Linked DNA regions of Homo sapiens: region 1 is linked to region 2. Evidence: fine-mapped expression QTL. A gene starts in region 2. The other region holds a variant in brackets. All regions are shown on one strand. Distances are between the middles of the regions.

What was found. PIP is the estimated chance that this variant, and not a neighbour inherited with it, causes the effect.
Region 1: its variant is the best candidate, but not a certain one, in a credible set for the expression of LTBR in whole blood (TOPMed, PIP 0.53).

The regions. Positions count from the first base shown.
Region 1 is chr12:6,430,978-6,435,490 of GRCh38, forward strand. No RefSeq gene overlaps it. Among named protein-coding and RNA genes, the nearest start is that of CD27, 12 kb to the right of the region's middle. RefSeq lists an enhancer at 3,431-3,931. The variant A/G (reference allele first, on the strand shown) is at 2,181.
Region 2 is chr12:6,381,752-6,385,751 of GRCh38, forward strand. It overlaps LTBR (lymphotoxin beta receptor), which reads left to right and starts at 2,411. Exons shown (of 10, transcript NM_002342.3): 1 at 2,411-2,703; 2 at 2,837-2,933; 3 at 3,271-3,396; 4 at 3,476-3,628. The coding sequence starts at 2,608. RefSeq lists an enhancer at 1,464-2,329.

The sequences.
Region 1 (4,513 bases), 49 kb after region 2:
AAAGCACGAAAAGCAAATCGTAGGATACATACTGTATATCATTTATGGAAAGAACAAAACAAACACAAAAATACAACTGTGCTGGGGCCGATGGACAATTGTGCCTGGCAGGCTGAGTCATGAGGCCAGTTAACAAGCCTTTCTCTATCTGCAAAAAGAAGTACTTTAGAAAAGCAATATAAGAAGAACATGGACCAGGGGCAGTGGTTCATGCCTGTAATCTCAGCACTTTGAGAGGCTGGGGTGGAAGGATTTCTTGAGGCCAGGAATTTGAGACCAGCCTGAGAAACATAAAGAGACCCAGTCTCTACATAAAATTAAAAATCAGTCAGGCGTGGTAGTGTGCACCTCTGGTCCTAGATACTCTGGAGGCTGAGGTAGAAAGATCTCTTGAGCCCAGGAATTCGAGGCTACAGTGAGCCATGATTGTGCCACTGCACTCCAGCCTGGGTGAGTAAGCAAGGCTGTCTCTAAAACACAAAAAGAAGAAGAACATGGAACTGCCAGACTTGGGCTATTTCATTTCCCAGAGATAATTTTTTACCGAGTGGAGAGAAAATGGGTGGTTTGTTCCTTAGGCTCTATTTCTTGCTCTGTGCTAGAATTATCGCAGCTTTGTGTAAGATTTCCTTCAGCAAATATAGGTAGCCTGCGATGCCCCAAATAAGAAAGGAAAAGACAAAGTCAGATGTTACTGCTGTCGGTCATCTCAGGTATGAAAAAGAGAGGCAGGCCCCTTGCCAGGGAGAAGGAACAACCAGATGCTGTCCATGAGGCACTCTCCTACCTCTCCTAAGACAGGGGTCGCCCTTGCTCTGAAAAATTCAAGCAGAGAATCCTCAGGAGGAGTGGGGCCAAGAAATCAGAGTAAGAAATATTTGATTATTGCTTAATAACATTTTAAGTAGAAAATAAAATAATTTTTTAAAACAGGCTGGCCGGGCGTGGTGGCTCACGCCTGTAATCCCAGCACTTTGGGAGGCTGAGGCAGGTGGATCACGAGGTCAGGAGATCGAGACCATCCTGGCCAACATAGCAAAACCCCATCTCTACTAAAAATACAAAAATTAGCTGGGCATGGTGGCATGCACCTGTAATTCCAGCTACTCGGGAGGTTGATGCAGGAGAATCGCTTGAACCTGGGAGGCGGAGGTTGCGGTGAGGCAAGATCATGCTATTGCACTCCAACCTGGTGACAGAGCGAGACTCTGTCTCAAAACAAAAACAAAAACAAACAAACAAACAAACAGGCCGGGCATAGTGGCTTACGCCTATAATCCCAGCACTTCAGGAGGCCGAGATGGGCGGATCACCTGAGGTCAGGAGTTCAAGACCAGCCTGACCAACATGGTGAAACCCTATGTCTACTAAAATATAAAAATTAGCCAGATGTGGTGGGGGGCGCCTATAATCTCAGCTACTCGGGAGGCTGAGATGGGAGAATTGCTTGAACCCAGGAGGTGAAGGTTGCAGTGAGCCGAGATCATGCCATTGCACTCCAGCCTGGACAACAAGAGCGAGACTCCACCTCAAAAAATAAGAAGGAAAGAAAATAATTTTTAAAAACATAAACATATGCCTACCACAGTGGCTCATGCCTGTAATCTCAGCACTGTGGGAGGCTGAGACAGCTGGATCAATTGAGGTCAGGAGTTCAAGACCAGCCTGGCCAACATGGTGAAACCCCATCTCTACTAAAAATACAAAAATTAGCCGGGTGTGCACACCTGTGGTCCCAGCTGCTTGGGTGGCTGAGGCAGGAGAATCACTTGAACCCAGGAGGTGGAGACTGCAGTGAGCTGAGAATGTGCCACTGCACTCCAGCCTTGGCAACAGAGACTCTGTCAAAAAACAAAAACAAAAACAAAAAACAAAAAACACCCACAACAACACACATAACTTTTTTGTCTAGGAAAGTTCTGGAAGAATACTCAATAATCTGAAAACAGTGCCTACACTAAGGAGGTAGGGAGAGGACCAGGGATTGGGGGAGGAGATTGATCAAAGGGAACCTGAGTCTTCTCTATAATTTTCCATTTTTTTTCATTTTCACCTCCAATTTTTAAAATATAATTTGTACTTTTTATTGTGAACTAAGATATGTAAAATAGTACATAAAAATAACACATTGAAAACCCACGTTCAGATCAGAAGATTAGTAGAACCTTCGAAGCGCCCTG[A/G]TCACACCTTCCCTCCTCACCGGGGGAAGCAGCTCTGGCTTGTGTCTATCACTTCCTCACTTTCCTTTCTAGTTCTACCATCTGTGTGCACCCTGAACAGCAAACTGCTTCATTTTGCCTGTTTTTGAACTTTATAAATGGAATCGTATGTACTTTTCTATGCCTTGCTTCTGTGTGTTTGTGCACTATCACTTAACATGTTTTTCTATCTATTTATTTATTTATATTGTGGTAAAATATACATAAAATTTACCATTTAAACTATTTTTAAATGTATAATTCAGGGGGCATGAAGTACATTCACGATGTACAATATTATATTTTTGACATTCATGCAAATTAATCTACATGGCTACATGCAGGTGGTTCATATTCATTCCTCTAAAGCATTCCATTGGGTGAATATACAACAATTTATTATCCAACTACCGTTCTCTCCTTCCTTCCTCCCTCCTTCCCTCCCTTCTTTTCCTCCTTTCTTTCTTTCTCTTTCTTTCTTTCTTCCTTTCTTTCTTTCTTTCTCTTTCTTTTTCCTTCCTTCCTTCCTTCCTTCCTCCCTTCCTCCCTTCTCCTTTCTTTTCTTCCTTTCTTTTGCAGTGGCGCGATCTCGGCTCATTGCAACCTCCGCCTCTCAGGTTCAAGCTATTCTTATGCCTCAGCCTCCAGAGTAGCTGGGACTACAGGCATGTGCCACCACGCCCGGCTAATTTTTGTATTTTTAGTAGAGATGGGGGTTTGCCGTGTAGCCCAAGCTGGTCTCAAACTCCTGGGCTCAAGCCATCTGCCCGCCTCCATCTCTCAAAGTGCTGGGATTACAGGTGTGAGACACCACAGCAGCTTGCTTGCTTGCTTGCTTTTTCTTTTGGAATTACAAACAGTAGTGCTTGAATATTTTTGCATATGTCTCCTGGGGCACAGGTACAAGCACTCTTAGTGCATTTACCTACTGATGAAAATGATGGATTTTGCTGGTTTAATTTTTTATAAGGAGGTGATATGAATATTGCTTTTATAATTAAATTTCAATTTTAAAAAAGAAGAGAAAGCAGTTGGGATGGGCTCATAGAGTGAAAGGGCAGGGAACGGTCTATGAGACCAGAAGAAGACAGGCAGGAAGGGCGGCTGAGCCATGCCTGCAGGCTGAGCATGGAAGGTACTGTGAGTACACAGTCAGATCGGCACAGGAAATGAGCACCTTTGAGGCGTCCACTCTGTAGGGGCTCGTCAACAGTAGACTGGGGTTCAGGAGACCTGGGTTCTCTCCCAGCTCTGCCACACAGGGAAAGTCATTTCACCTCTGCACCCCACGGTTCTGATAGCTGTAGAGTGAGAGGGTAAAGCCGAAGGTTGGAATCATTTTCCAGCCCTGCTGGCTTGAAATCCTAAGCTGGCTGGAGCAGTAAGATGGGGGCTCCCCATAGGCCCACAGGACCTTCTACCTAGAAGCCAGGAGGAGGGGACAGGAGCCCAGATAGGAAAGAACTCTGTCTCTCCAAGACCCAAAAAATGACTAAAAGTAATGACTGGGCCTCACCCCAGTAAGTCAGTAGTGGTGGTGCGGTGGTTAACAGCCAGCTCTCGGAGTGGGAAGCCCTTGATCTATGGCGTTTGCTGATGTATGTGGTTGTAAGTATTCCTACTATGGCCAGCTGGCCAATTTCAAGCTACCAACGAGTAACCTCACAAAATTCCTGAAAATGTAAGGATCGGGCTTTGGCTAGGCAGTACTAGCAGGCTCCAGCACGGCCCTAGGAAGGAAGCTGCCCTAAGAGCTCAGGCTCAGACACCGCACCACGGACTAGCAGGGGAAACAAAGGTCTTAGGTCCCTCTCAGGGCTCACAGTCATGAGGCTCAGAAACAGCTGGGGAAAGTGGGGCGTGCCTCCCTCCCCGCCACAGGGAGGATCACCAGACTGGCTCCATGAGCCATTTCCCTCATCTGGTGAGCAAGGGAAGTCACTCAGAAGAGCAAGAATGGCCCAGCCACCCAGCACGGTGGCTCACACCTGTAATCCCAGCATTTTAGGAGGCAAAGGTGGGCAGATCACTTGAGCTCAAGAGTTCGAGACCAGCCTGGGGAACATGGTGAAACTCCATCTCTACAAAAAATACAAAAATTAGCTGGGCTTGCAGGGCACGGTGGCTCACGCTTGTAATCCCAGCACTTTGGGAGGCCAAGGCTGGCGGATCACCTGACATCGGGAGTTTGAGACCAGCCTGAACAACATGGAGAAACCCTGTCTCTACTAAAAATACAAAATTAGCTGGGCGTGGTGGCGCATGCCTGTAATCCTAGCTACTCTGGAGGCTGAGGCGGGAGAATCGCTTGAACC
Region 2 (4,000 bases):
ATCACAACATCAGGAGTTCAAGACCAGCCTGGTCAACATGGCGAAACCCCATCTCTACTAAAAATACAAAAATCAGCCAGGCATGGTGGCAGGCGCCCGTAATCCCAGCTACTCGGGAGGTTGAGGCAGAGAATTGTTTGAACCTGGGAGGCAGAGGTTGTAGTGAGCCGAGATTGCACCACTGCACTCCAGCCTGGGCGACAAAGCGAGACTCTGTATGGAAAGGAAAAGAGAAAAGAAGAGAAGAGAAGAGGTGTTCTGGACCAGTTGGGGGATATGCAAGAATACACAAAAGTGAAGACTCTCTGAGCTGTATCTGTAAGATCAGTGTACCTTACGGTTTCATTGTATTATATGTTACACCTCTATTAAAAGAAAGGGTCTCAGCAGCATAAGACAGGGTGGGGAAAAAAAGAAAAATAGAATAGAGAAAGAGTCCCTGTCTTTTAGGGTAAAATCCTGAAATATTTTCAAATGAAATGATATGATGTCTGGGATTTACTTCAAAATAATAATGAGGGATTTGAAGAGTGTGTGCGTTGGTGGGGGAGGGGGTATACAGAATAAATGAAACTGACAGTGAGTTGAAGCTGGGTAAGGAGTATATGGGAGACTCCCAATATTACTTTTTCTCTTTTGGTATATTATCTTGCATGTGGAATTTCCACAGTAAAAAGTAAAAAGAAGAGAGAGAAAAAAGGACCTAGGGTCGCTACACACACATTCCTTTACGCGTTTAAGAGCTCAGCAGGGACTCTCATCCCAGCCCCCAGCGCTAGGGCCCTGGAAGGCTCAGCAGCCCCGCGCAGTGCATGCTGTTCTGATACTTCTGCCCTTTCCAGCCATCTTTGGCCCATCTGTACGGTGAGCTGCCTGCACCAGGTGAGGGGAGAGAGCCTCACAGAGTGAAATGCCTACAGCCTAGGCAGGTCCTTTCCCCCTTTTGTGACCTCTCCTCCCCATGCACACTTCCCATCACCTGCACCTGTCCAGACATCAGACCTGAAGTTAGACAGACCAGTGTAAGGACGAGTGCTGAACAGAGTCCTTCAGGGAGGGGGATAGTGCCCAAGTGACCTATCTCAAGAGAGGTTAGCCCCTCATCCCAAGGGAGACATCCCTGAGCCACAAGGAGTTGGCAGGACTGCTGGAATGAGTTGGGACCTAGACATCAGGAGACCCAGATTGTAGCTGGCTCTGCGGTGGACTGGCTCTGTGATGTGGCCATCACTCATTTATTCCATAAATACCTATTGGGCACATGGTATGTGCCAGACTCTGCTAAGCATGGGGAACACAGACTTGAAGATTCAGCCTGGGCCATGGTGGCACTCACAGCCTGGTGGGAAGCAAACAAGACAGCCAGGTACAGAGGGCAGTCTTCACGGGGACTGTGCAACCTAGGGCAGAGGTTGCCTTCCAGAGCCTCAGTGAAGCCTCAAGGACAGGTGGGAGTTAGGAAGACGGAAACTTGGGGACCAGAGAACCACGTGTAAAAGGGGGCAGCTGCAAGTAACTCCACGGGTGGGTGGGGTGTTGGGTTGAGGGAGATGGGAGGATGAAACAGGGCAGGAACGAGACCAGGCCACCCTGGAATCCCGGTTCCCTTATGTATCACCCTTAGCCTCCCTCTCCATGCTTAAGGTGAGGGGGCTGGACTGCGTGGGCTCTCAGCTTTCTCCAGTTCTAAGGGGTTTGAAGGTTCATGGGCAAAGAAGCCAGAGCAGAGGGACTGAGTGCCCAGGTCCAGCCTGCTGGCCCCAGGACTCCCCTCCGCATATCCTCCCCCTCTCTTTGGGAGGGAGGTTCCCTGAGGACAGGGAGCAGGGCAAGCTGCACAGCTCTCAAGGGTCTCCTAGGTGACCTGTGCCCACTCCTGTGCGGATTGGGCTGGGTTGGTAGCGTGGGGGGCTGGCTGATTTGCTAGTCCCTTGTAATTTGTCTGAAAAACTCCCACAGTAGGGCAGGACAACGGGGGAGGAACCCGGGCATCTGCCAGCCGGTTCTCCTCGGTCTCAGAGCTGCTTCTGCGGCCTTGCAGTCCCCGCGCCCTGCCCTCTCCATGACTGCCCGTCCTGGGCCCCTCGCTTTCCAGATCCCGCACCCAGCTGTCCCTTGCGCTCTCTGGAACTCCCTCTGCTCTCCCTGCGAGGCTTGTCCAAGGGCTGACCCCGGGCCCGCCGCCCTTCCCTCGGCTGGGCCAGGGCTGTCCGCAGTCCGCTCTCCCGATCGGGCTTCCGAAGAAGGGAGGAGGCCGGTTCCGGCCCCGCGGCCCTCACGTGCTTTCCCGGCCGCCCCTCCCGCCCCGCATCGAGGCAGACAAGCCTGTTCCTCTTCCCTGGGCTGCGATTGCGACAGGCCGGCCTGGCTCCCAGCGCTCCCTGTCCCCGCCCCGCGGCCAGCTCGCTCCACTCCCACTTCCTGAGCTCCGCCATGGGAGCCCTGGAGGCCCGGCCTGGCCGCTCCCGGCCCTGGGGTGCACATCGGCCCTGAGTCCCGTCCCAGGCTCTGGGCTCGGGCAGCCGCCGCCACCGCTGCCCAGGACGTCGGGCCTCCTGCCTTCCTCCCAGGCCCCCACGTTGCTGGCCGCCTGGCCGAGTGGCCGCCATGCTCCTGCCTTGGGCCACCTCTGCCCCCGGCCTGGCCTGGGGGCCTCTGGTGCTGGGCCTCTTCGGGCTCCTGGCAGCATCGCAGCCCCAGGCGGTGAGGAAGGGGCCTGGTAGGAGTGGGCGAGGGTGGGCAAGAGGGATCTGGGCAGCCGTCGCTCCATTCCCTCTGCCCTCCCAAGCTGACCCCTGACTAATTCTTCTCTCCTCTTCTCCATCTCCCTTTGAAGGTGCCTCCATATGCGTCGGAGAACCAGACCTGCAGGGACCAGGAAAAGGAATACTATGAGCCCCAGCACCGCATCTGCTGCTCCCGCTGCCCGCCAGGTGAGAGGCAATGGCAGGACGAACCTGGGCCTCGGAAGTGGGTCACGGGGGCTCCAGCCCCCTCGCGGCCTCAGAGGGAAGGTGGGCACTGTCCCCCAGGAAAACTGGCTGCTGGAGACGAGCGTGGGAAACCCTGGACATCACGTGGAGGAGATGGGACTGGCCCTCCCCACTGGGCCTCCTCTTTCCTTACCTCACTGAGAGGGAGCCGGAGGGCCACTGGCAGGATGATGGGGGGCCAGAGAGACCGAGGGAAAGGCCAGGGTCACACTACAGGCAGCGGAGGTGAGGGTGGAGCCTCGTCTCCTGAGGCTCTACTGCTCCACTCACGTTCTAGGCACCTATGTCTCAGCTAAATGTAGCCGCATCCGGGACACAGTTTGTGCCACATGTGCCGAGAATTCCTACAACGAGCACTGGAACTACCTGACCATCTGCCAGCTGTGCCGCCCCTGTGACCCAGGTGAGTGGGGATGTGCCTGCGGGGGGGCTGGATCCCCTGGAGCTTGGCCCCTCCCTGAGCCCTCCCGTCTCCCCGCCAGTGATGGGCCTCGAGGAGATTGCCCCCTGCACAAGCAAACGGAAGACCCAGTGCCGCTGCCAGCCGGGAATGTTCTGTGCTGCCTGGGCCCTCGAGTGTACACACTGCGAGCTACTTTCTGACTGCCCGCCTGGCACTGAAGCCGAGCTCAAAGGTCAGAGGTCCCTGAGGGGCTGGATGTGAAAAGGAGGCTGGGTGCCAGGGATCTCAAGTGGGAGCAGGGAATATGGTACTGTGTCCACGGCGACCCCCCAGATCCTTGGCTTAAAATTCCTCTTCTCATTCCATGCAGAGGCTCACAGAAGGGTTCTGGAGGGACATGGAACTGGGACAGGTGCAGGGGACACAGGAGGTGGTTCTTCTCAGTACTGGGAAGCTTGGGCAAAATGGTAGGCAGTAGGCCGGGTGTGGTGGCCCACGCCTGTAATCCCAGCACTTTGGGAGGCCGAGGTGGGCGGATCACGAGGTCAGGAGATCGAGACCATCCTGGCTAACACAGTGAAACCCCGTCTCTACTAAAAATACA